Regions from separate parts of the Homo sapiens genome. Here region 2 is linked to region 1. Evidence: fine-mapped expression QTL. Tissue or cell type: pancreas. Region 1 holds a variant in brackets; the other region holds the start of a gene. All regions are shown on one strand. Distances are between the middles of the regions.

The links. PIP is the estimated chance that this variant, and not a neighbour inherited with it, causes the effect.
Region 2: it holds the start of RAP1GAP, and the variant in region 1 is fine-mapped to the expression of RAP1GAP in pancreas (GTEx, PIP 0.98).

What each region holds. Positions count from the first base shown.
Region 1 is chr1:21,611,033-21,619,132 of GRCh38, forward strand. RAP1GAP (RAP1 GTPase activating protein) reads right to left here. Exons shown (of 25, transcript NM_002885.4): 5 at 7,993-8,040; 6 at 6,902-6,940; 7 at 6,274-6,459; 8 at 2,954-3,057; 9 at 2,596-2,674; 10 at 2,144-2,197; 11 at 994-1,077; 12 at 684-784; 13 at 420-549. Among named protein-coding and RNA genes, the nearest start is that of LINC02596, 29 kb to the left of the region's middle. RefSeq lists enhancers at 1-739, 7,610-8,100 and a silencer at 2,051-2,343. The variant G/C (reference allele first, on the strand shown) is at 4,854.
Region 2 is chr1:21,665,098-21,673,183 of GRCh38, forward strand. It overlaps RAP1GAP (RAP1 GTPase activating protein), which reads right to left and starts at 4,260. Exons shown (of 25, transcript NM_002885.4): 1 at 4,157-4,260. RefSeq lists enhancers at 961-1,461, 4,980-6,179 and a silencer at 4,182-4,331.

The DNA.
Region 1 (8,100 bases):
GAACATTTCCCTTCCTTCTCCCAGCTCCTTCACGGACTAAAAGTCACTTTCTCTTGAAAGCTTTTCCTGACTCCCACCTCTGCCAAGACTACATGTCCCCACATGACCCCATGATGCTCTCCACTCCCCATAAAACACCAGCTCAGATCTGCTGAACTCTTGCAATGTACTAGGCACTGTTCTAGTCCCTCTATGCACCCACGCATTTATGCTCACCTAGGAAGTGGGTGCCATTCTGACTGTAGAAACCAAGGCTTTCTGTCTCCCCTGACCCAACGAGACCCCACAAGTGGGGGCGCTGATCATTTCCATCTCCATCCCAGGGCCCAGCGCTGAGCCTGGCGTGATGGAGGCTGAACAGACAGGTGGAGGGGGAGGACAGGTGGAAGACAGGAGGCAGGTGGGGGTGCCCAGGCTACCTGCTGGGCGTCCCCTTCCGTGTATGGCAGCTTGGTGGACACGTGAAACATGATCTCCTTGTTGCGGAAGTTGCAGTACACAGATTCGGTCCCCGTCTGCCCGTGGGTCACGTCCAGGCCTCCTCGGAACCTGCCCCGGGGCCCCCCAGGCCACGCCTCAGTCTCCAGCCCTGGCCAGGCCTCCATGGGGCCAGGACAGGGGCTCCCTCCCTGCCCAGGAGCACAAGTCAGATTACACTCTGCTCAGCCCACCCTAATACTCACCCCTTAAAGTCCTGCAGTTTGACCTTCTGGCCAAGAAATTCAAGGAACTCCACGAAAGCGGGACTTTCCTCATTGGTGCTGAAGAGTTCTTCCTCGGAGGTCTGGGGATGAGGGGCCAAGGTCATTGAGCTGGAGTTCCTGAGAAGCCCCTGCCCTCTGTCCCTACTTGGACCCAGAGAGGGCCGGAGGGAGGACCTCTGGCAGCCCCTGGGCTCCTGAGTCCCTTGGCCGGTGTGCTGCCCTGGAAAAGGTGTGAGGCTCCAGATATGGGGCCAGGTGGGGAGGGGCGGCAGGGAGGAGGTGAGCACACCTGCCCAAGCTTCTGATAAATGACGCCAAACTTGAAGTTATTGCTGATGACATGCTCGTCAAAGGTGACGATGAGCCGGGAAGCCTGCAGGAGAGGACGCCGGGTGAAGAGGCTGCGTGTGCAAGCTGCCATTCGACGTGCTCTTCCCCCGTGCCAAGCACTGAGCCAGGCGCTCTACACACGTCACGTCATGTGATTCTCAGAACAAGCCTGGGAGGGAGACAGTCCAGCTGTCCCCTCTGAAACTCAGGTTCAGAGACCTTAAGTGACTCACCTAGGGTCAATGGCTTGCAAGCACATGCAGGCTTGGGATTTGACCCCAGGTCTGTTGGATTCCAAAGCTTAAGTTCATCGCTCCTGAGTTTTGCTGTGAGCCCCAGTCCTGCCATGCCAAGCCCACCCCTACTCCACTCTAACTCCCAACTCACTCCTCGGCTCCTCTGTAAACCCACATCATCCTCCCAGAACAGGACACGTCCCACCAATTTGCTGTGGGCATTGAGCAAGTTCTCCTCCTCACCTTAGGCCTCAGTTTCCTCTCCCATAAGCAGGAGGGGGGCCCTGATTTCTGAAGCCCCTTCAGGATACCTTTCCTGGACCACACCACCTCACACTGCTCCAGAATTCAGTCAGGGACCCAAGGGTTTACCTGTCTGTCCTCTTCCAGGAGGTGCCCCTGGCTCATCCAAGGCAGAAGCCCGTGCCCCTATCCCCACACTGTCACAGTGCCTAGAGCCCAGCTACCAGCATCCGAGCAGGAAGTGCCAGGGCTATTCTCTCTCTATAGGTCTCCTCTGGGATAAAAAGGCAAGGCCGGTAGAAAAGACACCCATTCCAGGGGAGGACTATGGCACAGCTTGCTCTCAGGAGGGTCCCCAAACATCACAGAGGTTCCAGATGTGAGGCCAGCCTCTAAGGCAGACAAACCGAGGCTTAAACGCAGGCCCTCCTATCTGCTGTGCACCCTGGGGGAAGGCACAGGCCCTTTCGGTGGCTCCTCTTCTGCAAATTGTGGACTTCACAGGGTTATTGTGAGGATTAAATGAGAGAACCTTGGGAAAGTATCTGGCACACAGAAGGTGCTTAATAAATGCTCAGTCTTCCAGTTACTCACCCACCCTCAGTGAGCTGTGCCCAGATCCAGCCATACCTTGGGGTAGAGCACAGGATAGAACCGATCCACATTGACGTCTTCACACACCAACTGCAGGAGGAGATAAGGGAGGGGTGTGAGGTGTGGGGCCAGGGAGGAGAGGATGGGGCTGCCTGGGCCTCCCTGGTCAAGGTCTGGGGAGGAGCCATGCTGGGAATGGCCAAGGCTAAAGCAGGACTCGGGGTTCACTGTTGCTCAGGGAACGGAGGTCCCCTGAGATCTGAAGGTGCTATAGAGAAAACCAAAAGCACACAGGCAGGGGACGGGGGCCTAGGAGAACACGTGGCAGCCCAAGACACGATGGGAACAAGTGAGAGACAGCCTCAGGATAGGGCGGCAGGCCAGGGCTAGGGCCTACAGCTGAAGGGGACGCGCCAAGGCAAGCTGAAGCCCCACAGGTGCCCATCTGCGGAGCCAGCCCGGGAAGCTCAGCGGAGCGGAGACCTCACCTTTGCCATCTGGACAACATTAGGGAACTCGGTGAGGCAGGAGATGGGGATGACATCATGGTATGTCCGGCACTTGGTCCTGAGAAGAGAAAGTCACACGATGAAGGCCTGGGCAGCAGGACAGGAAAATGGGAACCCCACCCCCCACAAAGTAAGGCCAGAAGGGGGTGGACCACAGCGAGGACCAGAGGTGATGATGGGTGTCAGGCTGACTCGGGTACTAACTTGCTGTGCAACCTCAAGCAAATCCCTGCCCCTCTATGGGCCTTGATGAAGAGAGTGGGTCAAATGAGATGGGCTCTGAGATTGTAAGACCTCAGCCCTTCCTGCCATCTCAGGACTCCCCCACCACCCTCACCTGAGCAGCAGCCGCAGGTGCTCTTGGTCCCCGATGACATCGTACTTGAGTGAGAAGACAAGGTGGCCGAGGGCAGCGTCCAGTGAGTAGTAATTGAAATGCTCCTGCAGTGGGAGGTGGGGGCCAGGGGAGTGGGTGAGGCTGAGCATGGGGCTTTTGGAAACAAGGCCAGAAAGCCAACCCACTCCCAGATGCAGGTCCTTCGCCGATAGCAGGTGTCACGGCTGATAGCAGACCCCACATCAGACAGACCTGCACTCAAAGCCCCACTCTGCCACTGACCAGCTGGGCAGCCTGAGGAGGTCACTTGGCCGCTCTGTGCCTCACTTTCCTAGTCTGCCAAATAGGAGGGAACCCTGTACTTTGGTGGCAGCCAGGACTGAAAGGGATGAAGTGCTTGGCTCAGTTCAGTGAAGGTGGGTAGTAACGCTGGATCTCTGGGTGCTCATCGAGTCTGGACCATATTCGGACCTGCATGCCTGTCTTCAGCCCTGGTCCTTCTCAGGGCTGGGCACCCAGCAGGTGCTCAATGAGCAAAAGCTGATTGCCCAACCTGTGACTCTGTGGCCCCTGAAGCCAGGGCCCATGAGAAACAGGAAGCGAAACATCTCACAACACACAGGGTGGCTGGCCAGGCAGGTTTCCACCCTCCTGTCTCACCTGGAGGAGAGGGCACAGGGTTGGGAAGACACCCTGGGGAGTATCAGGGGTGGCTGCGGCAGGGATGGCACCCCCAGAGAGGAGCCCAGGGCTGGCACCTCCGGGTGGGGAAGTCCCAAAGCCGAGGGCTGGAAGTTCAGGGAGACACCACCCAGCCTGGCCCCGGGCTCCTCCTGCCAACCTCAGCCCCAGCCCTAGCCCAAGTTCTGGGAGTGGAGCTGGCTGCCCGGCCACACCCGCCCCAGGAATCATCCTAGAAGTAAATCCTGTTCAAACATGAACACCTGTGCTCAGAGGCCAGGAGCAGATAGAGGCAGGGACCAGTGAATGTGCCCCACGAATCCGCAGCTCAGGGGCATTCTCAATGGACCTGGGGCAGAGTCCCCCAGCTCTGCCTGGGCACAGAGTGGCAGAAACCCCCAAATGCTTGACATCATCCAGCAGAGAGGGAGTGGCAGGCACTTGATAAGGAGGCCCCTGGCAGGGAAGTCCAGAGAGTGGGGAGGTTCCTTGGACACCCCCAAGCCCAGAGGAGCCCCCGGGACACAGTGGGAGAGCGGGCTCAGGGTCCCAGGAAGTCAACGCCCAAAGTCATCCTAACCTCCCCTCTCTGCCAGGATAGGGCCCAGTGCCTGAGCACCTGGCTGCTTCCCCCATTACCCCACCTGGAGTCAGGAAGGGGCCCTGCCATTCTGCCAGCCCTGGGGCTTCTCCCTCATTACTGCTAATCTGATCCTGGACATGAAGCCTCTTCTTTTTTTTTTGAGATGGAGTCTTGCTCTGTCGCCCAGGCTGGAGTACAGTGGCACCATCTCAGCTCACTGCAATCTCCACCTCCCAGGTTCAAGCGATTCTCCTGCCTCAGCCTCCTGAGTAGCTGGGATTACAGGCGCCCAGCACCACACCTGGCTAATTTTTGTATTTTTGTTAGAGATGGGGTTCTGCCATGTTGCTCAGGCTGGTCTTGAACTTCTGACCTCAAGTGATCTGCCCACCTCGGCCTCCCAAAGTGCTGGGATTACAGGTATAAGCCAGGGCGCCCAGCTGCCTCTTCTGACCCTCCAGTCTGCACTTCTTCAGAGCCTGCTGCACTCGAGGTCCACTACCTTCATCTGTTCCTACCTTCATCTGTCACTTGTCACTCTTTCAACAAACTTTTCTGAGTACCAACCATGTGTTTGGCATATACAGTACCCTCAGATCCTACCACCTGCCAGACCCAGCTGGGAACCTCTGGACA[G/C]CAGGTGCCTAGGATGCAGGTCTCGCTCCACCTCTAGGGCTCAGCTGGGAAGTGGAATTCCATGCTGGGTTCTGGGTTTGTTCCCAGGCAAAGGCTCCTGAACCTGGGCTTGCTGGTTTAGTCCCAGTCACAGTGGATCCTCCCCTAACTCCATTGGTTAGCACCGGTGTCTCCCAGAGTTAGGCCAATGGCCAGGCCCAGACTGAGGTCACACATCTTCCGAACCCCCAAGGAGTCACCCCCTCTTCCCAACACACACACACACACACACACACACACACACACACACACACACACACACACACATACAATGACTAGGAGCATGATCTCTCCCATGCACCTTAATGGAAGGTCAGCCAAAGCTGGTTCAATTCCCAGGCTTAGTCATTGTGTGACCTTGACTAAATCATTTACCTATCTGAGCTTCGGTTTCCTCTTCTGCAAAAACAGAATAATCCTGATATCACCAAGTAATTATGAAGACATGAAAACAGCTAACATTAACTGAGTATTTACCATGTGCCAGGTGTGGTTCTAGAAGCTTTGCGTGTACTTTTATTATCCCTGTTTTCACCGACGAGGAAAGTTAAATAACTTGCCCAAGGTCACACAAACAGTTAATGGAAGAGCCAAGATTCCCACACATGCCACGAGGCTCCAGAGCCCACGACACACTTCCCCATTTTGGCTCTATGCTGACGAAGAGACAGCACCCGGCCTGCAACCTGACACACACATTCCCGGCATGGGACCTCCCCTTGGCTCCCACAACACTCTGACAAGTTGTTGCTGGGCAGGGTCCCTGCTCTGTGCTGGTGGTGGGGCAGGGGCTGCATCAACCCATGACATTACTGTTCTCCTAACTCCAAGCTGCCCAAAGGGAGGGCCTGGGTCTATTGTGTTGGCTGCTGTATACCTGGTGCCTAGAACAGGGCCAGGCACACAGCTAGTGCTCATTATTTGCCACCCCTGACTGAGCACTTACTTTGTCCCAGACACCACTGTAAAGACCTTACAGATATCAGCTCACTAAAGCCTCACAGCAACCTCAGGAGGTGGGTATCATTACCACCAACCACCATTTTCACAGATTAGGAAATGAGGCACAGAGAAGTTAAGCGATTTACCCGATGTCCTGTGTAGTGGGTGGCAGAGCCAGGATTCAAGCCCTGGTAGAGTCTCTGCCATGAACCACCATGCCATAATGCTGCCTTTGCAATCAATGTTGAATGAACAAGTGATTCTGCCATGCATGTTCCCTGGGGACTGGGAGTGTGTGTGGTGGGAGCACATTCACTCAGGGCTCTAGGACTGTCACCCAGCCCTGGCCCATGGGTTCTGCTCCCTCCCAGGCCCACCTCGAATGGGGCTGAACTGTGACCCACCCCAGCCAGCCCCGCTGCACCAGCCGGCCACCCACCTTGCCGAGAAAGTGCTTCCGGTAGATGCGGGCTGTGGGGTTGCACTCGAGCTTCACCTTGGTTGTGGGCGACTGCAGTGGCTCTGTCTCGGGGATGCTGGTGATTTCGTGGTTGGTGCCCTCAATCCAGTAGCCCCCAAACTGGGGCAGCAGGATGAGGGGGAAGGGTCCTTCTCGCCCCAAGACCTGAAGAGGGACTCAGCTGAGAGCCACCCCACACTGTACCCCACTGGGCGCCCCAGGACACCCTCCCAACTCAGACCTGGAGCCGCTTCTGTCGTGGCTAAGGGGTATGAGGGGACAGGCCAGAGCCTGTGTGGGCCCCAGGGTTCTGCTCCAGCCCTTTCCCTCAGCCAGACCCAGACAGCGCCGAGACCCAAGTCTCTAACAGGGGGTGTGGGGGCAGGTAGAGCTGGAGCATGACCTTGGCCCAGGAGGCTGGAACATTTGGCTCAGAAGGCCTAAGGGTTCAAATGGGCTCTGAGGCCTTGGGCCTGCAAATTAAGTCTCCAGCCCGCAGCAAGGCCTGCAGGTCAGGCTCCTAAGGAGGAGGACCTGGTATCCAGAAGCCCTGTGTAAGTGCCTCCTGGGCTTGAGTAAGGGTGGGCGCGGGGTTCTAGCTGAGTACCTCGTGCACGCTCGGGTATGGAATGTAGTCCTCCTCTGTCTGCAAAACACAAACAGGGCAAGGGTCTCTCCATCTGTCCATCCTCCAGTGCCCCCAGAGCTGGCCTCTGCTTGGCCAGCCTCAGGGCTGAGAGTGCGGATGGGGCCCTGGCCTCATCACCTCTTACAGATGGGCAGGGGCTGAGGCAGGCTTAGCGTGCTGAGTGCTGGCATCTTCTGGGGCTCTCCTTGCCTGGAGAAAGGAGGGCTCACTGCCTCCCCAGAAGAAACCGCTGGACTGCCTGGAGGGCTTGCTGCACCCCACCCTAGAGCTTTGGATGCAGCGGTCTGGGCGGGGTCTGAGAATGTACATTCCTCACAGGCTCCCAGGTGGCACCGACGCTGCTGGTGTGAGGGCCTCTGCCCCAAAGAGAGCATCAGGCTTACTGCCCATGCACCCTCCTCTAACCCTCACCCTGTAGCCCTGGGCCCACTCCACCAGGCCTGGTCTTCTAGGGTCTCTGGGATCTCTCACCAAGAACCATATGCTAAGAAAAGTGGGTCAAAAACAAGAGCCTCCCCCTCATCTCGCTGAGTCCCCTGCCTCCGGTCAGTCTCCTCACCAGTGGCTGGGGGGCACCCAGGCCTGCCTCCCTATCACTCCCTCCCCATCCAGACAGCAGCTTATGGAGCAGGAGCTCATAAGTCTCCTAGGGCCTGAGTTGGAGTCTTCCTGCAACTGCTGGTCATCACTGGTTTCAGGGAAAACATTTGGCAGCAGCTGTCTTTGAGAGAGGAGGGCTTTGAGTTTGGGGTGGGGACGCCTGGAGAGGCAGGGGGAGTCTGCAGCAGTGAAGACCGAGAGGAGGAGCTAGAATAGAGGCCCCAGCCCTCTAGCAAGAGAGGGGTTCTCCCCATCACAGAACTCCTAGAGGGCAGGGGCTGGGTCTACCCTGCTAGAAGCTGTGCCTCCCCCCCTACCCCCGCACCTGGCACACTGTAAGACTACTTGCTGAAAGGGGATGGATTTCCTGCTTGATGGGCAGTGGTGGCAGCACTTCCCGGACCCCCTCCACCCCCTAGAGAGGGAGGCAGACTGCCAGGCCCACCTACTTTGAGGGGCGGCGGGAAGGAGCAGCGTTGTTCATCCATCCTGCTTCCCTGTAAGAGAAGGCAGCACTGTTACACCCTCCCAGGCCTGCCGCCAGGCGCTGCCTCCCC
Region 2 (8,086 bases), 54 kb after region 1:
TCAGTGTTTGCTTGCATTCACCTTCTTATCCCTTGAAACATACTCATCAGGCAAGTGCTATGATTCCCACTTCCTAGATCAAGAAACAGACTCAGAGGGAGAGAGGAACTCACCAAAAGTTGTACGGCTGCTCAGTGGCAATGTCAGAATTCGAACTTGGGTCTGCTTCCTCCGAATGGGGGTCCGAGGGAGGGTGGCCTCGGTTGGCAGAGGTATTAACCTGTAGAGTGGGCAAGTCACTTTCTCTCTTTGAGCCTCACCTCCTCATCTGACACAAAGCACCGGGCTGTGGCAGGGACCACAGGACCCAGCTCATCTCTGTGCCCCAGTGCCTGTCACAGTCCCTGGGATCCACTACATGCTCATTAAATGCTTAGTGAGTAGGCACACGAGGCTGCTCCCATTGTGCTGGTGCAAAGCAGGAGTATCATGTTTTGCTTCCTTTCTTGCAGTAGGAAAGGCTGGAATCCCAGTGGGACCTTTCTGTTTTGGGGTGTCTCCCCACCAGCACTCCTCTGCCTCTTTTCCCTTCTTCCTCTCTGAGTCACCACCTGCCTGACAGTGCTGGTCTTTAGCCCTAAATATAGAGCACATTTTGAGGCATAAAATGTCCACAAATGTGAGCAACATAGCTGCAGCCCACTGCCCTTGGGTACCCTCCTCCTGGGCTGACCCCAGGGTGGCCGCCCCAAGAAGCCCTGAGACTGGCGACCCCTGCTTGGCCCTAGTGTGGATCCAGAGGCTGCACTCTGCAGGAAGTCATCAGCCTGGGGCCCCATGGGCCCACACTGCCACCAGAGCCCAACTTCCTTTCCTTATTGGCACAGGGCTGCCACCTCACACCTCTGACTTTCCTCATCCCCCAGCCAGGCTGAGCTGCCTCCCAGAGCTGGAGCTGGGCCCAGAGAGGGAAAATGACTTGTCCGGGCCACACAGCCAGCAAGAGGCAGGGCCAGGCTTGGACAGGGAATCAGCACTCTGGCAGGCTTGGTGTGAGTGCCGAGGGAGCATGGTGGAGCTGGGAGCCCCTCCCCATCTAGCATGTCTGCCCTGGAGGCCTCACCTAAGCCCACAGAAGCACCTCTCCACAGCGCCAGTCTCTCAGAGGCACAGGGTGCCAGGGCCAGCCTGGCAGAGGTCCTGGCATGCAAGGAGGTGAGCAGAGAGTGCTGAGGGCTCCCTTCCCTTCACACCAGCTGGCCCCCAGCCTTGCTGGGAGGACAAAGCAGAAACTGGGGCCTGGTAATGCCTCTAGCAAAAGTGGAAAGGAAAGGGAACCCCAGAGCCGCTTGGAGCCTGCACTGGGTCCTGTCCTGTCTTGGGAAGGACCTGCAGAACAACACCTTCAGAGACAGCAAAGGAGCAGCCTGGGGAGAGGCTCCCGTGGCAACCCGCTGGGTATGTACACAGAGGGGAGGCAGGAGAGGAGGGTCCACTGAGTGGGAAGCACCAGGCAGTTTCCCAGGATTCTTGGGGCCAGTCAAGCTGGGTCCACATGAATCAGAAAAGAGGGAGGAAGGGGAGGCTTTGCTGGGGACGGTCGGGGGCCTCCACTCCCCTCCCCGGGTGATGAAGCATTAACATCCCACACGCAGGAAGCTGATGTAATTCATGCGTGTGTGCACCCATGATGGCCTGGGTGTGGGTGGGTGCATGTGCGTGTCTGCCAGGTTCATTTTTAAGGGCGTAGGGCATCCTCGTGTTCTTCCTGCATGCGCGTGTACCATGTGTGCACCCTGGAGGAGATAATGGAGGCAGACGACAGAAGACGAGGGCTTCTGAAAAGGCTCTTCTCCTTGCTGACAACCTCCGTCTCTCTGTGTGTACACACGTGCCAGCATCTGGATGGTGTGACTCTCAGTGCTTGTGTGTCAGGCAGAGTCGGGGGCAGGGGTCTTGGCCTGGGTGTGCCCGTGTGTTCCTGTGTCTGGGTCTCAGGGTATCTGTCAGTCTAACTGTATTTGCGTTTGTGTCTGGCCGTGCTCAGGTCTCGGTTGTTTGCACAGCACATGCGGCTGCTCAGCAGCCTCTGACAGCCAGGACAAAGGCCTCCGTAGACAGATGGCAGCATGGAGGACAGATCTGCCCGAGGAGTCCTCAAAGGGCCTCTTGGCCCCAGAATTTGACAGCAGGGCAGGGGCAGGGCCAGGTGAGAGGGAGGTGGAGGCCCTGCTGTGGGAGCCTGAGGCCTAAGTGGCAGAGACCTCTCTCCCTGCTGCCCTCCAAGAGGCCAAAGGAAGAATCCTTCTTGTCTCCTAAGGGTGGAAGGTAGTTAGAGCCAGGAGAGGGGCCTCCTGAGACCCCTGCCAGGCAGGCACCTTGGGAAGAAGAGAAGAGGAGAGGGCTTTGCCCAAGCAAGCTGGGAAGGTCCCAGGGTGAAAGCACCATTATGGTGCTCCACGGGACAACCCTCCCTCCATGGGAAGGGGTGGCAAGGCAAGCCTAGGACTCTGGACCCTCTCCTCAACCTGACCCAGCTTCCAGCCACAGGCACCCTCACCTCCTGGCAGCAAAGGGGAGCAGGTCCACATGGACCACTCCACCACGGCGTTCACCCTTCCTCCTCTCCACCGCTGTGGAGATCTTCTCCCATCAAGAGTCAGAGTACCACGATTCTAGACCTTGCTGAAGGTGACTAGGTGACCTCAGGCAGTTCATTTAGCCTCTCCGAGCCTCAGTTTCCTCACCTGTGCAATGGAGGCTTCAGCGCCTGCCCTGAAATATTGCTGTGAAGGGGGAAATTGCTCGTGCCACCTGAGGATTAATCATTACCCTGGAACCCTTCCCAAGGCCATCAAGGAACACGCACCCCTTACCAGACCTTCCAGCTGCTGGGGGCTCTCAGAGTGAGGCTGAGGTCATGGAGAAGGGAATGGGGGGCCCCCATGGCCAGCTGGACCTGATCACTGCCTCCCCACTCAGCCACAGCCCTCAGGGCCCTGTGCCAGTCCAGAAGCCCATTCAGGGACACCTTTGGCCAATGTTCTGTTTCATCTGCGAGGCAACCTTCCCCAGTGCCCCAACCATAGCGTTTTCCCCCAAACACCCTCAGGAAGGAGGGACCACTACCTGTGCAGGGGGGGCCAGGAGCCTCCTGAGAGCCTCATATGGGGAGGAAGTGGTACCATCTCACCCCCATTGCCTTTCTCTCCTACTTCCACCTGGCCAGCTTCCCTCAGTGCCCCTCCTGCCTCAGTGCCCCTTCCCTCAGTGTCCTTCCTGCCTGCCGCCCCAGGGGCCTGACCTCTGACTTGGCAGGGAGGGGAATGGAGCCCGGGGACAGAGGCCAATGAGCCCTGAGAACAGTGGATGTTCTTCCTGACCCCACCACCGGGCCTGTGCTATGACCCCAACAAGGACTCCGAGGGCATGCACAGGCTGGGGTCTGTTATGGTAGGGAGGGGGCCGCTCACCTCCGGAGACTGTGTGTGTGTGCAGGTGTGCGTACACAAGGTTTCTTCCCCAAGCCCAGGCGCCCCGCAGCTGGCACCAAACCCTGCAGGGCACGGAAACCGCCCCGTGAATTCCCACCGAGTCCTCAGATCCTGCCGAGCCAGGGGAGGCGACGAGGGGGCGCCCAACTTCGTGACGCGTGTGCCCCGCTCTGCCGCGGGGGTCAGGGACAGGGGAATGCGTCCTGTCTCTGGGGATGCAAGGACATCACCGCCCTCCCCGCTCAGGGTCCTTGATCTGAGGCCCCCACTTCCCTCCTCTGAGGACAGGAGCGCCACCCTCTGGGGGGCGCTAGGGCTTGGGCCCCTCCCCAGGGATGGAGGAAACGCGCCCACTTCCCACAGTCCCTCCTCTAAACCCCAGGCGCCCCCACCTCGAGGTGGGCGGAAAACTGGACTCCCCACCCACCCAGGGGGGTGGGACCAAAGCCCCCTGGCCGCGGCCTGGACCAAGTCCAACAGGCTGGGGGTTCAGCCGGCTCAGTCCAGGCCTCCCCCCACTTCTCCAGCTGCTGTCAAGACCGGGCTGCGCGAGCCCAGCTGCGCCCACCCCTCGCCCCTGGAGACCCGGGTCCCCCACGCGTTCGCCCCCACCCTCCGTCCCCGCCCGCCCGCGCGGGGTCTTCGCTGCGAGCCGACGGGAGTCTGGACACCTCTGTCCCCTTCCCCTTTCCAGGGCCGCAGCCCTGGCGGGGCGCACTCACCCAAGGGCCTGGGCCGGGGGCGTCCTGGGCTCGGCACTCTGGTGCCCGCGGCCGCCGCTGCAGCTCTGCTCAGATGCGGCCGGCGCTCGCCGCCGCCGCAGTTCGGGGAGGGGGACGTCACATGACCGCGGAGCGCTCCTTCCCCGGCGCCGCTCCCCACTCACTGCGGAGCCCAAGCCGCGGGCGCGGGAGCGGCGGGGAGGCCCCCGCCCTGCCGCCCCGCCCCGCCGCAGGTCCTGGAGGAGGGTTCTCGGTGCCCCCATTTTACAGGTGGGGAAACTGAGGACCAGAGAGGGGCAGGGACTGGCTCAAGGTTACACAGCTAGACAGTGGCAGAACCTGGGCGACAGCCCAGCTGTCCAGGCAACAGCTCATGCTCCAAGGGGACTGGGACAACTTCTGGATCAAGTGGAGACGTCGGGATAGGTGGGGCCCACGGCCCCCATGGGCTCCGCTTGTCTGCAGGCGCGGGAGGAAGGCGCACAGGCTTCGCTGGGCGAGAAAGCTGCTGTGCCCTGGCTGACGCCCTCCTCACCCGGGCGCTCGGCGCGCTTCCTGGCAGAGGCCACGCGGTTGACCCTCGCCAGCCCATTCGCGGCTCTTGGACTTTGTCTCTGGACTGGGCAGCTCGCCCCCGCCCCAGCCTAACCCGGGCCCAGGGCGGGTGTGGGGAGGGGAGCCACAGGCTACGGAGAAGTGGAAGGGAGGCACCCGGAAGAGAGTGGGATCAGAACAAGAGTGAAAACCCAGGCAGGGAGGGGGCGGCAGAGATCACCTCGGCCTGACTTCCAAGGCCCAGGGAGAGTTAGAGACTTGCCCAAGGTCCACAGCAAGTGAGCGGCCTGCCCACTCGAGTCCCTTCTTTGATGGTCAACAGAGCCTGAGGCTCCTGTGCCCCACTCCCCACCAAGGGGGAGCCCTCACCCACACCTCTTTCTGTTCTCCACTGAGCTCCCTCCCCGGGGAACAGCCCACATGAAGCAAAGAAACACGCAGTGGGTCGGCAAGGCCAGAACTGGGGACAACGGGTGAGGGGTATGGTTGGTGGCTCCAAGGTCATGAACTCGTCACAGAACACTCGTGTTCCAGGGGGATCTCTGAAATCTCTGGATCTCACCCCAATGTTCTAAGAACTGGGAAAACAGGCTGCAAAAGGTACAAAGACAGACCTCTTTCTCAACCATTTCGAATTGGTGGGTCAAGCCGACAGGGCCCTCCAAGGTCAACAAGTCCAATAGGCCCACTTGACAGATAATATTTAGGGAGGGGAAAGTCCAAGACATGTACTCAATATATTTCTTGAGCATCTACTGTGTGCTTAAAACCACAACTGTTACTTCCAGCTCCCACTATTTTCCCGGCCACATGGGCTGCATTTCACAAAAGGAAAGATCCGAGGTCTTCAGCAACTCTTACATCAGCCTCTGGAGGATCTGAGACATGCAAGCCTCCGGGTTTTCAGTCCCATAGGGGCTGGGGACCAGAGCCATGTTTTCCGGTCAAGACTCTAATCCCCGTGGAGAAAAGGTGAATAAGGGGGAATAGCAGGAAATGCCCCACCCTCTTCCCACGCATCCACCCACCTGTGAAAGGGCAGAGGGGAAGGTAGATCAGGCACTTGTTCTTTTCAGTCCTCCCTCCAGCAAGCTTCCCTAGCTGTATATGGGAAAGAGACCCCAGCCCAGGGGGGTTTCTCAAACTTCTAAGAGTGCAGGAGCGGTCTGTAGACTCAGATTCAGATTCAGTGGGCCTGGAGCCTGAGCTCCTGCATTTATAATGAAGCTTCGTGGCTGCAGACATCCTGAGCAGCACTGGTAGTACAAGGCAAGTTGTCAGGGCAGGAGGAAGACTCCTGCGGTATCACATGCTCACTCATGGACCACCCAACCCGGGGGGCCCTTTGATCTCCTGCCTAGGAATACACCAGGACTATATAGTTGGCTCAAACACTGTAATAAAAAGGCAAGAAGTTGAATGAGGCTGGCCGAGGCGCTTCTGGGGATGATGGTGAAGGGACTGTGGGGCATAGCAACTGCCCTAGACAGGTATGTCCTGCAGGGCTCTGGTCCTGGGAGATGCTTGGTCAAATACATCCTACTTAGGAAATGCCAGCAGAATGCCTATAGACCTTCAAGGGCAGCATGTACTGGGTGGGGCTGGCTCATCTTCAGCAGGGGCGGGGCTCACAGATCTCAGAAGTACATGGATTCCAGGATCCTTTTAAGCACCATCTCTCTACCCATCCTCTCGCTTTTTTATGCATTGCTCCCTGAATTCAATTCTGAGCACAATCTTCATGCTTCTTGCTTCCCTAACTCCTGTTCCAAAAGGGCCCCTTTCTCCTCCACGCTTTAAGACAGAGACCCTCAATTCTGGCCAGGCATTGCTGATGGTACATCCCAGAGTGCTGAGTGGAGACAAAGGTGTCCCACCTGAGCTGGAGGGAGGGGGCAGATGGAGGCACTGGAGATGCAGAAATGCAGCAAGCCAAGGGGTACAGCTGTGTGACCTCTTCATGGTCCCATAACCTTCTGGAGTCTGGACCTGCAGACTCCAAGGTCCTTAAGAGCTCAAGAGCCTATTAGCCTGGGGGTACTGAATGTCCCCGACCCTGGCTGAGCAGACCAAAGAACGAAGTCTCTTCTATGCCAGGCGTCTCTATTTCTTCTTTATAATCAAGGAGCTTTTCAATTACAGCATTTTCCCCTTTACAGAAAACCTCCCTCAATGCAAGAGGCTTATAATCTCCCATGTGTCCTGGGGGGCACCATTCTGAGACTGTCAGGGCCCCTGGCGAGGAGGCAGCACGTGCCGTAGGGGGCTGGGCACAGAGCTTGGCATGCAGCCTAGCTACTGAGGGGGAAGATTGGACAAAGGCCCCGGAGCTTTGCTTTCCCTGTCCTATTTCAATCCAAACCACTCAGGACTGACCACTCACGCATGGCTGCCTCTGGGCACAAGCCTTGTCTCAGACACTTAATACATTGCGACCCAGCCACCATCTCTGTGCTCCCTATCACTGAGAAATGAAAGCTGGCTTTAAAAATCTGGCATCCAAAAAGGCTGGAGAACGAAAACATGGGTGGCACCACGGTAAACTCCAAATAATGCATGAGACTGCAGGTGAGGGAGGGGGGAACAGTCCTAAAATGGGAATGATGCCTCTTGGAAATAACTCCCCATCTCTGCCCGCCCACTCCTTCCCAGTCAGATCAAATGGGAGAAAAACTGAGATAGGAACTGCCCACCAGAGCAAGTAGGGGAAGAAAACCCCAAAGCAGCAAGTCCTCAAGGTGTGCTGTCCACAGAGCCACAGGTAAGGTCTAGGAAAGGCCGGCAAGGAGGGTGGGCTTCAGGGGCGGCTTGGAGCAGAGGACAGTTCCACTCTAACCACAGCAAGGCAGGATGAAGAGTGGCAGTCGGCGCCAGGGCACACGCATCAGGGAAGGGCCAGCGGCCCCCGTCTGGGTGGGAGGCTGCCAACCTGGTGCAGCAGACATGACAGAGACTACCCCTGGGGTTAGAGGACTTTGGATCATGAATAGTTAGGAAGTCCCTGTTTTGAGGACAAAGAAGAAAAGCCTGAAGGTAGGGACAGTACTGGTCAAACCAAAGTAGTAAAAAGAGCTCTCCCCCAAGGGGCCACGGGAAAACTTCTAACAGATTCCAAAGTAGTCATTCATTTTTCCTTACTGAGGATGTATCATGCGGGCCGCTGTGGGAATACAGTGGTAAGATGGCCAGAGCCCTGCTCTCAGGGAGCTACAACAGTCTAGCACTAATTAGGTTGATTCATTTGTGGGGGACTGAATGGTTTTAGGTGCAGACATAAAATCCAGCCTGGCCCTAACTCTGGCTTCCAGTACAGGAAATAAACAGTATACTCTAGTTCCAGAACTCCACAGTCTAGCATGACTTGGAGCCTCCTTC